Linked DNA regions of Homo sapiens: region 1 is linked to region 2. The links come from fine-mapping of genetic effects on gene expression. A gene starts in region 2. The other region holds a variant in brackets. All regions are shown on one strand. Distances are from middle to middle.

What was found. PIP is the estimated chance that this variant, and not a neighbour inherited with it, causes the effect.
Region 1: its variant is the best candidate, but not a certain one, in a credible set for the expression of AQP11 in anterior cingulate cortex (GTEx, PIP 0.69).

The regions. Positions count from the first base shown.
Region 1 is chr11:77,525,751-77,531,130 of GRCh38, forward strand. It overlaps a transcript of PAK1 not described here. Among named protein-coding and RNA genes, the nearest start is that of LINC03030, 43 kb to the right of the region's middle. RefSeq lists a silencer at 1-88. The variant T/C (reference allele first, on the strand shown) is at 2,064.
Region 2 is chr11:77,587,203-77,592,582 of GRCh38, forward strand. It overlaps AQP11 (aquaporin 11), which reads left to right and starts at 2,751. Exons shown (of 3, transcript NM_173039.3): 1 at 2,751-3,409. The coding sequence starts at 2,791. RefSeq lists a silencer at 2,098-2,727.

The sequences.
Region 1 (5,380 bases), 61 kb before region 2:
GTACACCACATGACAGGTGCTCTTACATAAGTAAGGCAGAATTGGATTCAGTTTGGGTTTCTTTTCTTTTTGAAACCATCTTTCTCTGGAATTGTCCTTTCTAAAAGTCACTAGAACAACAGGAGGGAAAAGTGAGATCTTGAACTCCCCAGGGAATCAAAGTGGCACTTCCTTCCCCTTTCTTTCTTTGTCTACCTTTGCACTGTTGCCATCCGCTGGGACCTCTTTGGAGAGGAGGTTTTATTCCCCTGCTTTCTTTCAGAATCCTGCTTCACATAATCTTCACTAGCTCTTCACAAAGAAAACTAGGACTCTCATTTATTTTATCCAATCCACCACTACATCCAGCCTTGAAAACAGCAGGCAGCCTATTATTCTCTAACAGGGACAAATAGCAGGATGGAGCTTGACTATTTTCCATGAGGCTGATTTTTGCTAATCTAACGCATTTATTCTTTGACACCTTTTCATGGCCAATTGAGAAGTGGTACCCAGAAAGACAGTAATGCAACTTAGAAATGTATGGAAAATTGATAATGTTGAGATCTTAATTGAGGTGAAAATAACCAAATAACGTGTGGAGGGACATTAGGACCATTTTGTAGTATTGACAAAAGATACATGACACATAGCCTTCCATCCAACAACTCTGCTCTAGGATTCTAGCTCACAGAAATACACCAGGGAGCAAAGGCATAAGAGTAACATTGTTTATTGAATTATAACTGTAGAATCATATGAAATGACATAAAAAGATATGTATTGTAATGTGGAAAAAGTAAAATGCAGAACAATATTATATGTGTGGTTTCATTTTTGTTAAAAAACACCACATGTGGTTGCATATACCTGTGTATATTTATAGACATAAAGAAAAAGGCTGGAGGCCAGGTGTGGTGGCTCACGCCTGTAATCCCAGCACTTTGGGAGGCTGAGGTGGGCGGATCACGAGGTCAGGAGTTCAAGACCAGCCTGACCAACATGGTGAAACCCGGTCTCTACTAAGAATACAAAAATTAACTGGGTGTAGTGGCATGCACCTGTAATCCCAGCTACTCAGGAGGCTGAGGCAGGAGAATTGCTTGAACCCAGGAGGTGGAAGTTGCAGTGAGCCAAGATCACACCACTGCAGTCCAGCCTAGGCGACAGAGTGAGACTCCATCGCAAAAAAAAAAAAAAGGGCTGGAAAGATACATGCTAAAGCCTCCTTTTTCTGGAGAGTGAGACTGGGGAGTGTGGTGAGGGGAAATTTCACTCTGTTTCATACACTCTGGATTATTTAAATCTATTGTAAAAACCAATAAAGGAAATTAAGAATAAGTGGATTGGTATAAGGTAGTTAATTTATTTTTTATTTTCTTTATTCTTTCGAGACGGGTTCTCACTCTGTTGCCCAGGCTGGCATCCAGTGGCATGATCTCGGCTCACTGCAACCTCCGCCTCCCAGGCTCAAGGAATCCTCCCATCTCAGCCTCCTGAGTAGCTGGGATGACAGGTGTGCACCATCACACTGGGCTAATTTTTGTATTTTTTGTAGTGATGGGGATTCACCATTTTGCCCAGGCTGGTCTCTAACTCCTAAGCTCAAGTAATCTGCCCACCTCAGCCTCTCAAAGTGTTGGGATTACAGGCCTGTGCCACCGTACTGGGCCTGGGTCATTAATTTATAGAGCATTTATTTTGTGCCAGGCACATGATAGATACTTTATATAGATCACCTCACATGTCCCTCCAATCTTCTGATGTAGGTAATGTTATCCCTATTTATGAGTGAGAAAACAGATTCAGAGAAGTAACTTGTCCAAGGTAATAGAGGTAGTAAGTAGCAGACCTAGGGTTCAAACTCACACCTTTCTGATTCCAAAGCCAAGATCTTTCCATTGGTCTGACAATGCTCTCATATGATATAGTCCTGGCTCAGCAGATGGGCTTATTAACATTACTACATTGCCACTGAATGTTAGGTTTATTTTTAGAAACTTACGGAAAATTTTATACACAAAAAGGAAAAGTGTAATGAATCCATGTGTTCATTATCACCCAGAGTCAATAATTATTAATAC[T/C]CTGCATCATTGTTTTATCTATCCCCACAAATACTTTTTTTTTTCTTTTTGAGACAGGGTCTCGCTCTGTCACCCAGGCTGGAGTGCATGCAGTAGCTCAATCACAGCTCACTGGAGCCTCAACCTCTCAGGCTCAAGTGATCCTCCCACCTCAGCCTCCCAAGTAGCTGGGACTACAGGCGAGTGCCACCATGCCCAGCTAATTTTTTCTATTTTTTGTAGAGACGGAATCTCACTATTCTGCTTAGGCTGGTCTCGAACTCCTGGGCTCAAGCAATCCTACAGTCATGGGCCACCCCACCCAGCCTATCCCCACAAACACATTTTTGGGAGAGCATTTTAAAGTAAATTCAAGGTTTATCATTTCATCATCAATATTTCAATCTCTAAAAATAAGAACTTAAGAAAACATAGCCACAATACCATTATCACACATAATAAATTTAACAGTAATTCCTTAATATTATCTAATATCCAATCCACGTAATTTTCCTACATTATCTCCAAAAAATAACTTTTTTTTTTGTTTGTATGTGTTACATATGTCTCTTTTTTTTTTTTTAAGAGATGGGGTCTTCCTCTGTTGCCCAGGCTGGAATGCAGTGGCACAATCATAGCTCACTGCAGCCTCAAACTTCTGGGCTCAAGTGATTCTCCCACCTCGGCGTCCTCAGGCACATGCCATCACGCCTGGCTAATTTTTAAACTTTTGGTAGAGATGAAGCCTTGCTATGTTGAGCAGACTGGTCTCAAATTTCTGGCCTCAAGCAATCCTCCCACCTAGGCCTCCCAAAGTGCTAGGATTACAGGCATCAGCCACCACACCCAACCTGTCTTAAGTCTTCAAGTCTTCTTGAATCTGTACTTTTCCAGCTCCCTTTTTCTTCATACCATTTATTTCTTGAAGAAATTGAGTCATGTGTCTTGGAGAATTTCCCATCTTTTTTATTTGATGTTTTATATCCTTATGGTGTCAATTTGCATGCTTCTCGGTTTTTCATATTTCTCACAAACCAGTGGTTAGAAAATTGTTAAATTCAGGTTCAATTATTTTGGCAAGAATATTTCTTAATTGGTGTTGTATACTTCCTACTACATCATATCAGGAGGCAATTAATGTCTGGCTGTCCCACTGTTAATAATGCAAAGGTGGTACAGTAGGTTCAAAGGTTGTCAGCCTCATCTATCTATTGCAAAGTTTCTTATCAACCATTCACCTAATAATTTTAGCAACCACTGATGATTTTTGCCTAGATCTGTTATTTTGTTAGGGATTAAGTTCATTTTTAATCCCGCAAGACAGGTATTTTTAAACACCATCCTGAGATGGGATGTAGGTCTCAAAAATATACATTTTATGACCTATTGTGTATTTACACAAGAATCATTGAGCTTTTAGCCTTATTTTCCTAAGACTATCAGCATTCTGCCACCTCATAAGGCCCATTTAGAATCATTTTGCTACTTAGAGTCACATTTTTATTAATCTATTTGGAATTTTTATCTATGCTGCAATCTCTAAATAATTCATAAAAAGGAAGAAGGCAGGAGGGGACAGAGGAAAGATATTATATCACCAGTCTTGATATATGCCTCAGTAAGCCACTTCAACATCTTTGAGTCCTTTTAAACTTCATGCCCAGGGCAACCTTTTACATTAGAAAAAGATGTTATTTTAGTCTCAGTGATTCTATGTCTATTCTTATTTTTTCCACATTCCTTGTAGCTTTTGTCCTGAGCCAAGTTCTGAAGGTAAACAAAGGGGAAGGCCTGGGTTCTGTTCTCCAGGGGTTCACAATCACCTACATGTAACAGAGAAATGCCCAGAAGGCTCTTGGAATGCAGGAAAGAGACACTCCCAGACTACAGAATCAGGGACAGCATCTCAAAGGAGAAGATGTTTAGCAGAGTTTTGAAGGATGAGCAGAAAGTAAGGGGAGGGCATTCCAAGAAAAGAAAAAACCCATACAAAGGCAAGAAGACGGAAAAGAATAGGCCTTTTCAGAGCACTGCACATGGTTTTGAATGACTGGGAGAGCAAGGTTTATAGGGAGAGGTAGCTGTGCTGGAGCAGTGACAGGGATAGGCCATGAGGAGCCAGGCCAAAGAGTTAGGATGGCTCTGAAGGACTTACAGCAGAAGAGTGGCAGAGTCTGATTGATCTTGTCTTGTTCCCCAGTACATTTTTTTCCTCCTTTTTCCTATTGGGGTGAAATTCACATAACATAAAATTAACTTTTTTAAGGTGAAAATTCAGTGGCATTGAGTACATTCATAATGTTGTGCAACCACCACCTCTATCCAGTTCTAAAACATTTGCATCATGCTAAAAGGAAAGTCTATACCCATTAAGCAATTACTCCCCTTTCCCCTCTCCCCTCAGCTCCTGATAACAACCAGACAGCTTTCTATACCTGTGGATTGATCTATCCACTCAGTATATTTTCTTTTTAAAATTTATTCAAGTAAAATGGATTTATTATAGAAGAATCAAGATAGAGATGAACAGAAAGAAAAATAAATATTGCTATCATCTTAGCATCATGGGTAAATTTTTTATGCTGTGTATTCTTCTAAACAATTTTCCAAGGCTTCTCCCTCTCCTCACCTCAGCATGTCACCCAACCCCCATATATTTCACAAGGTCCTCCAACCTTCTGGAGTCTCCCCAACCTTTGAGATATAAAAGAATCCTGCTCAAACCCCTATCCTATGAATGTCATGAAACCCAAGTCCCTACCGATATCTCTGAAGGGTCTCATATTGAGCCAGAGGTATGTTTCTTTTGATCACCTCTACCTCTGATTTTCTGCCTTGATCTCCACCCCTCATACTTCCTGCGCACCTTGCCCTTTCTTCTACAACACATCACCCTGTTGGACACTTGCTCAACCTCTTCTCTCCCCAAAAGATGGCCTAAATACGGTTGTGTGTTTAGCAAACTTTGAGGAAAGATTTGGGGGCTAGAGGGGCTAGCTTATATTGAAGCTCAGAGAACATCTTGAAACCAAGTATTCACAGTTCTTTTAAGAGTCCACCAGTCATTCCTGGCATTGGACAATTCTCACTGGCCATGCCTCCACCAGCTGCCCACCCTCTCCCCCTCTTCCCTTCCTCCCCTTTTCATTTTCCAGATTTAATCTGGCTGTAAACTCCAAAGCACTTATTGCCAATTCCCATTTCCTTTTGTGCAAGGCAATTTGTTGCTCCTTTTGTTTGCTCCAGCTGACAGAGATTCTAAATTATTTTGCTAACTCAAAACAGTCTCTCCCCATCAGAACGCTAGTGCCAGCTTGTCAAACTGACACTTTTCCCCC
Region 2 (5,380 bases):
ACTCTCAAGAGACTTTAATTGGTGATTTCTTGTTTCTGAAAATAGGAAGGTTGATTTGATGCAAAATATCCAATCAGTAGTAATTAATTATGTTAATTTTGCCCTTGTTCTTTAATTTAAAAAATGTCCAAAGTCCTTTTAATGACAATATGTATTACCACGATACTAAAATTTCTTACCAAAGTCCAAAACACTGGTTTTCTACATGACTCTTCCGGGTAAAAGTGAATTATCAGCAGAGCAGTAAATAAAATACATTCACATTAATCCTCAAGTGACTTCAAGTCTAGGGGAGCACTGAAAGGGTTACATTCATAGGATTGATTTAAAGGCAACTTCTTTAAACAGCAGTGACTTAAAAGTAATTCTAATTGCCGGGCGCGGTGGCTCACGCCTGTAATCCCAGCACTTTGGGAGGCCGAGGCGGGCAGATCACAAGGTCAGGAGATCAAGATCATCCTGGCTAACACAGTGAAACGCCATCTCTGCTAAAAAATACAAAAAAAAAAAAAAAAAAAAAAAAAAAAAAAAAAAAAAAGCCAGGTGTGGTGGCAGGCGCCTGTAGTCCCAGCTACTCGGGAGGCTGAGGCAGGAGAATGGCGTGAACCCGGGAGCAGAAGTTGCAGTGAGCTGAGATCACGCCATTACACTCCAGTCTGGGAGACAGAGCGAGACTCTGTCTTAAAAAAATAATAATAATAAATAATTCTAATTTAAATTCTTTCTGGCCAGGCAATCAACACAGGAAAGAGAAAAGGTCTTGATTTTCTACTAGTTTGTGTCTTGTGAAAGAATTTTTTTTTTTTTTAGACGAAGTCTCACTCTGTTGCTCAAACTGGAGTGCAGTGGCACTGTCTTGGCTCACTGCAACCTCCACCTCCCGGGTTCAAGGGATTCTCTTGCCTCAGCCTCCCGAGTAGCTGGGACTACATGTGCGCACCACCATGCCCAGCTAATTTTTGTATTTCTAGTAGAGACGGGGTTTCACTATGTTGGCCAGGCTGGTCTTGAACTCCTGACCTCGTTATCCGCCTGCCTCGGACTCCCAAAGTGCTGCACCTACAATGGGCCACCCCAGGGGACAAGCTGTTGGGACTGGAATGCGGTGGCAAGAGCCGTGCACTCTGGCTGCTGAAACCTGCTGTTTCCACTGTAAGCTACCACTTAGTGAATATTTTCTACGTATTGGGAACTGTACTAAGTGGCTTTCATGTTTTGTTTTTTGTTTGTTTGACTGGTTTGTTGTTGTTGTTGTTGTTGTTGTTGTTGTTTTTGAGACGGAGTTTCGCTCTTGTTGCCCAGGCTGGAGTACAATGGCGCGATCTAGGCTCACCACAACCTCTGCCTCCCGGGTTCAAGCGATTCTCCTGCATCATCCTCCCGAGTAGCTGGGATGACAGGCATGCGCCACCATGCCCGGCTAATTTTGTATTTTTAGTAGAGACGGGGGTTTCTCATGTTGGTCAGGCTAGTCTCGAACTCCCGACCTCCGGTGATCCGCCCGCCTCGGCCTCCCAAAGTGCTGGGATTATAGGCGTGAGCCACCGCGCCCAGCCGCGCCCGGTTTTTGTTGTTGTTTTTGTTTCTAAAAACAGCGTCTCGCTCTGTGGCCCAGGCAGGGGTGCAGTGGCGCGATCTCAGCTCACTGCAGCCTGGAACTCCTGGGGTCAAGCGGTCTTCCCACCTAAGCCTCTCCGTGCTGGGACTCCGGACGCGCTCCACCTCACGCAGCCGTATTCCTGCTTTCAAAGCAGATGGAAGAGGTGCGCCAGGACCCCCAGTTCTTGGAAACAGACCTCTCCAGTTACCTGTTGTTTCCTCTTCACGAAGAGTGCATGTAACAGTAAGACACAACTGTTTCATATTATACGTAAAGAGTTCATGCCAAAGGTTATAGACAGTCACATGCTAAAACTAGGCTACACTTTGAAGAATCACCGCTCAAGTTCTGGAAAAAAGAGGTGACTGTTGAACAACACTGTGAGGGTAATCGATGCCACTGAAATATACACTTAAATTGATTAAAGTGGCGAATTTTATCTGGCATATATTACCACCATTTTTAGAAATGTTTTTTGGCAGGTGAAGAAAAGCAAGGCTCCAGGAGGCCCTGCGCACCGGTCTACGCCCACTAACTCACCCGCCCCCTGCGCCGCGTCTCCCCTCTCAATTTCAGTCGCCCATTGATAAAAACGAGGTGGCTATGTGAGATGGCCTTCAGCGGTCTTTCCAGCTCCACGGTTTTACAGTGTGGAGCGGGGAAAGAAAAACTCTAAGGTCCTCGCTGCAAAGCAACCATCAGAGCTCCGCCGCGCCGTGCCGCTCCTCTCCGCCCCGTGGTCCGGGTGTCACCGCCCGCAGGGGCGCAAGGGCCGCAGCACGCGTGCGCAGTGGGCACCAAGAGCGCTGCGTCGACCGCGCCGCGCCGGCCCTCCGCCGCCGCGCCCGCCTACAAGGCCCTGAGGGAGACTGCGGAGGGTGAGTGCGCGGTGGGCTCGGCTGACCGTTGGCCCTGCGGCCGGCGCCCTAGGCTACCTCCCTTCGCCTCCCCGCGCCTCCCCGCGCCTCCCCGCCTCCCCGCCTCCCCGCCTCCTCGGCTCTGGTTCCAACACCCCAGCGCCAAGCCGGGGAGGCGGGGAGGACTTCTTAAGTGTGCCGCTCGGGAGCCTCCCGCTCGTCCCGCCCCGAGGGGCGTGAGGAGGGGAGGGGCTGCGGACTTCGGACTCGGGCCTGGAGACCGCCTCCTACCCAGAGCCGGAGCCCGCAACCCGCTCAGGCGGCGACGGAGCCATGTCGCCGCTGCTGGGGCTCCGGTCCGAGCTGCAGGACACCTGCACCTCGCTGGGACTGATGCTGTCGGTGGTGCTGCTCATGGGGCTGGCCCGCGTAGTCGCCCGGCAGCAGCTGCACAGGCCGGTGGCCCACGCCTTCGTCCTGGAGTTTCTAGCCACCTTCCAGCTCTGCTGCTGCACCCACGAGCTGCAACTGCTGAGCGAACAGCACCCCGCGCACCCCACCTGGACGCTGACGCTCGTCTACTTCTTCTCGCTTGTGCATGGCCTGACTCTGGTGGGCACGTCCAGCAACCCGTGCGGCGTGATGATGCAGATGATGCTGGGGGGCATGTCCCCCGAGACGGGTGCGGTGAGGCTATTGGCTCAGCTGGTTAGTGCCCTGTGCAGCAGGTACTGCACAAGCGCCTTGTGGAGCTTGGGTCTGACCCAGTATCACGTCAGCGAGAGGAGCTTCGCTTGCAAGAATCCCATCCGAGTCGACTTGCTCAAAGCGGTCATCACAGAGGCCGTCTGCTCCTTTCTCTTCCACAGCGCTCTGCTGCACTTCCAGGAAGTCCGAACCAAGCTTCGTATCCACCTGCTGGCTGCACTCATCACCTTTTTGGTCTATGCAGGTTTGTCATTCTCACCAAATACTTGGCACTTCCAGAGCCTCTATGACATGAGGCTGTAAGTTCTTTACTAAAATACATTTGAAACCGTCTATCCCGCTATGATGTAAATGCTGGTATCCCCGTTATTCTAACCATTTTGCAGCCCGTTCTTAACCAGTAGGGCCGACACGTAGAGCCTTCATGCAGTGCTGCTTTGAACACCCAGAGAAAGGAGCCACCTCTGTGCTGAAACTGAGATACTGTGAGATATTGCCAAGGGTTCAGATATCCTACAAAGGGATTGTTTTAATGGTAGAAAGGAAAGATAACTTATTAACTGCCTCTTTCTTCATGCCAAGGTGGTATAGATCGTTTCGGATACTCTTACTGAAAAATGATCCTGGCTTTACAAAGTTCCTTTCGATTTAAAGCACAAGGCACATGATTGGTTAGTATAAGAGCGGAGGGTAGAAATTTTGTAGTTCCATTTTAGTCCTATAAATGATTTAAAGTCATTTCTTATTTCCTTAATAATTCATTTTGAGTTATGAAATTTCTTATTTCCTTAATAATTCATTTTGAGTTATACATGAACTTTTAAGTGACCTATTAAGAAAAATGTTTAAATGATAACTTGCTTCAAATTAAAGATGCTTTTTAAAATATAACTCTTGAGAAATCTGTTGATTTCTTTTAAACCATTTGTTTACTTTGACAGATCTCAGATGCAGTGGGCAATCTAGTCCTAAGTGGGAGGAGGAAATCCAAAACACAAGTATTTAATGATGAAATGTGTCATTTTAAATGATTACAACAGAATATCTTTATTGGGACTACATCTAAATTATAAAAGACTGTGGAGGCAGAAATAACAACAAAGGAAATTTGTGGTAATAATCTTCTGCCCATTAAAAGTGAAACAATGACTAGAAGCAAACTTCAAGATAAGGACTCCTAAACACGTACTTGACCTTCTAGGGTAAAAATGAAAGCCTTCAGCCGGGCGCGGTGGCTCACGCCTGTAATCCCAGCACTTTGGGAGACCGAGGTGGGTGGATCACCTGAGGTCAGGAGTTTGAGACCAGCCTCGCCAACATGGTGAAACCCCGTCTCTACTAAAAATACAAAAAAAATTTAGCCAGGCATGGTGGTGGGCGCCTGTAATCTCAGCTACTCGGGAATCTGAGGCGGGAGAATTGCTGGAACCCGGGAGGCGGAGGTTGCAGTGAGCTGAGATCGCGCCATTTTACTCCAGCCCAGGCGACAACAGTGAGACTCTGTCTCAAAAAAAAGAAAGAAAGCAAGCCTTCCCAATCAATTTCCCCTTCTTTAGGTCTAGTACCACTTTTTAAGTAGACATAAATGGAAATAAGTGGTATAGAAGAGTGAAGGGGGCCGGGCACGGTGGCTCACACCTGTCATCCCAACACTTTGGGAGGCCAAGGCAGGTGGATCGCTTGAGCCCAGGCGTTCGAGACTAGCCTGGGCAACATAAGAGAAATCCCATCTCTCCAAAAAATACAAAAATTAGCCGGGCGTGCTGGTGCGCACTTGTAGTCCCAACTACTTGGGAGGCTAAGGTGGGAGGATCACCCAAGTCCAGGAGGTTGAGATTGTGGTGAGCTGTGATAGTGCCACTGCACTCCAGCCTGGGTTATAGAGACCCTGTCTGTCTCAAAAGAAAAAAAAAAAGAAAAAGAGAAAAAGAGTGACAAGTACAGGCATATTTGAGGGATTGGTGGGTAGTTGCTTATTTATTGAAGTTTTAGATTTTAGCTAAAGCAGAAACATCCCCTGTATATGAACAGAATTGTCACTGCAAAAAGAGTTATGCTATGGTTTAGCTCTTTATTTCTACAATTAAAAGCAGTAAAAACTTAAAAAAGAATTTTTACATCAATAGAACATTAACTACAGTTGGATTTTTCAATACCTATGTTCCTCTTCCCTCTCTTGATTAACCTGAAGTTGATATTCTTTCTGTCTACTTTT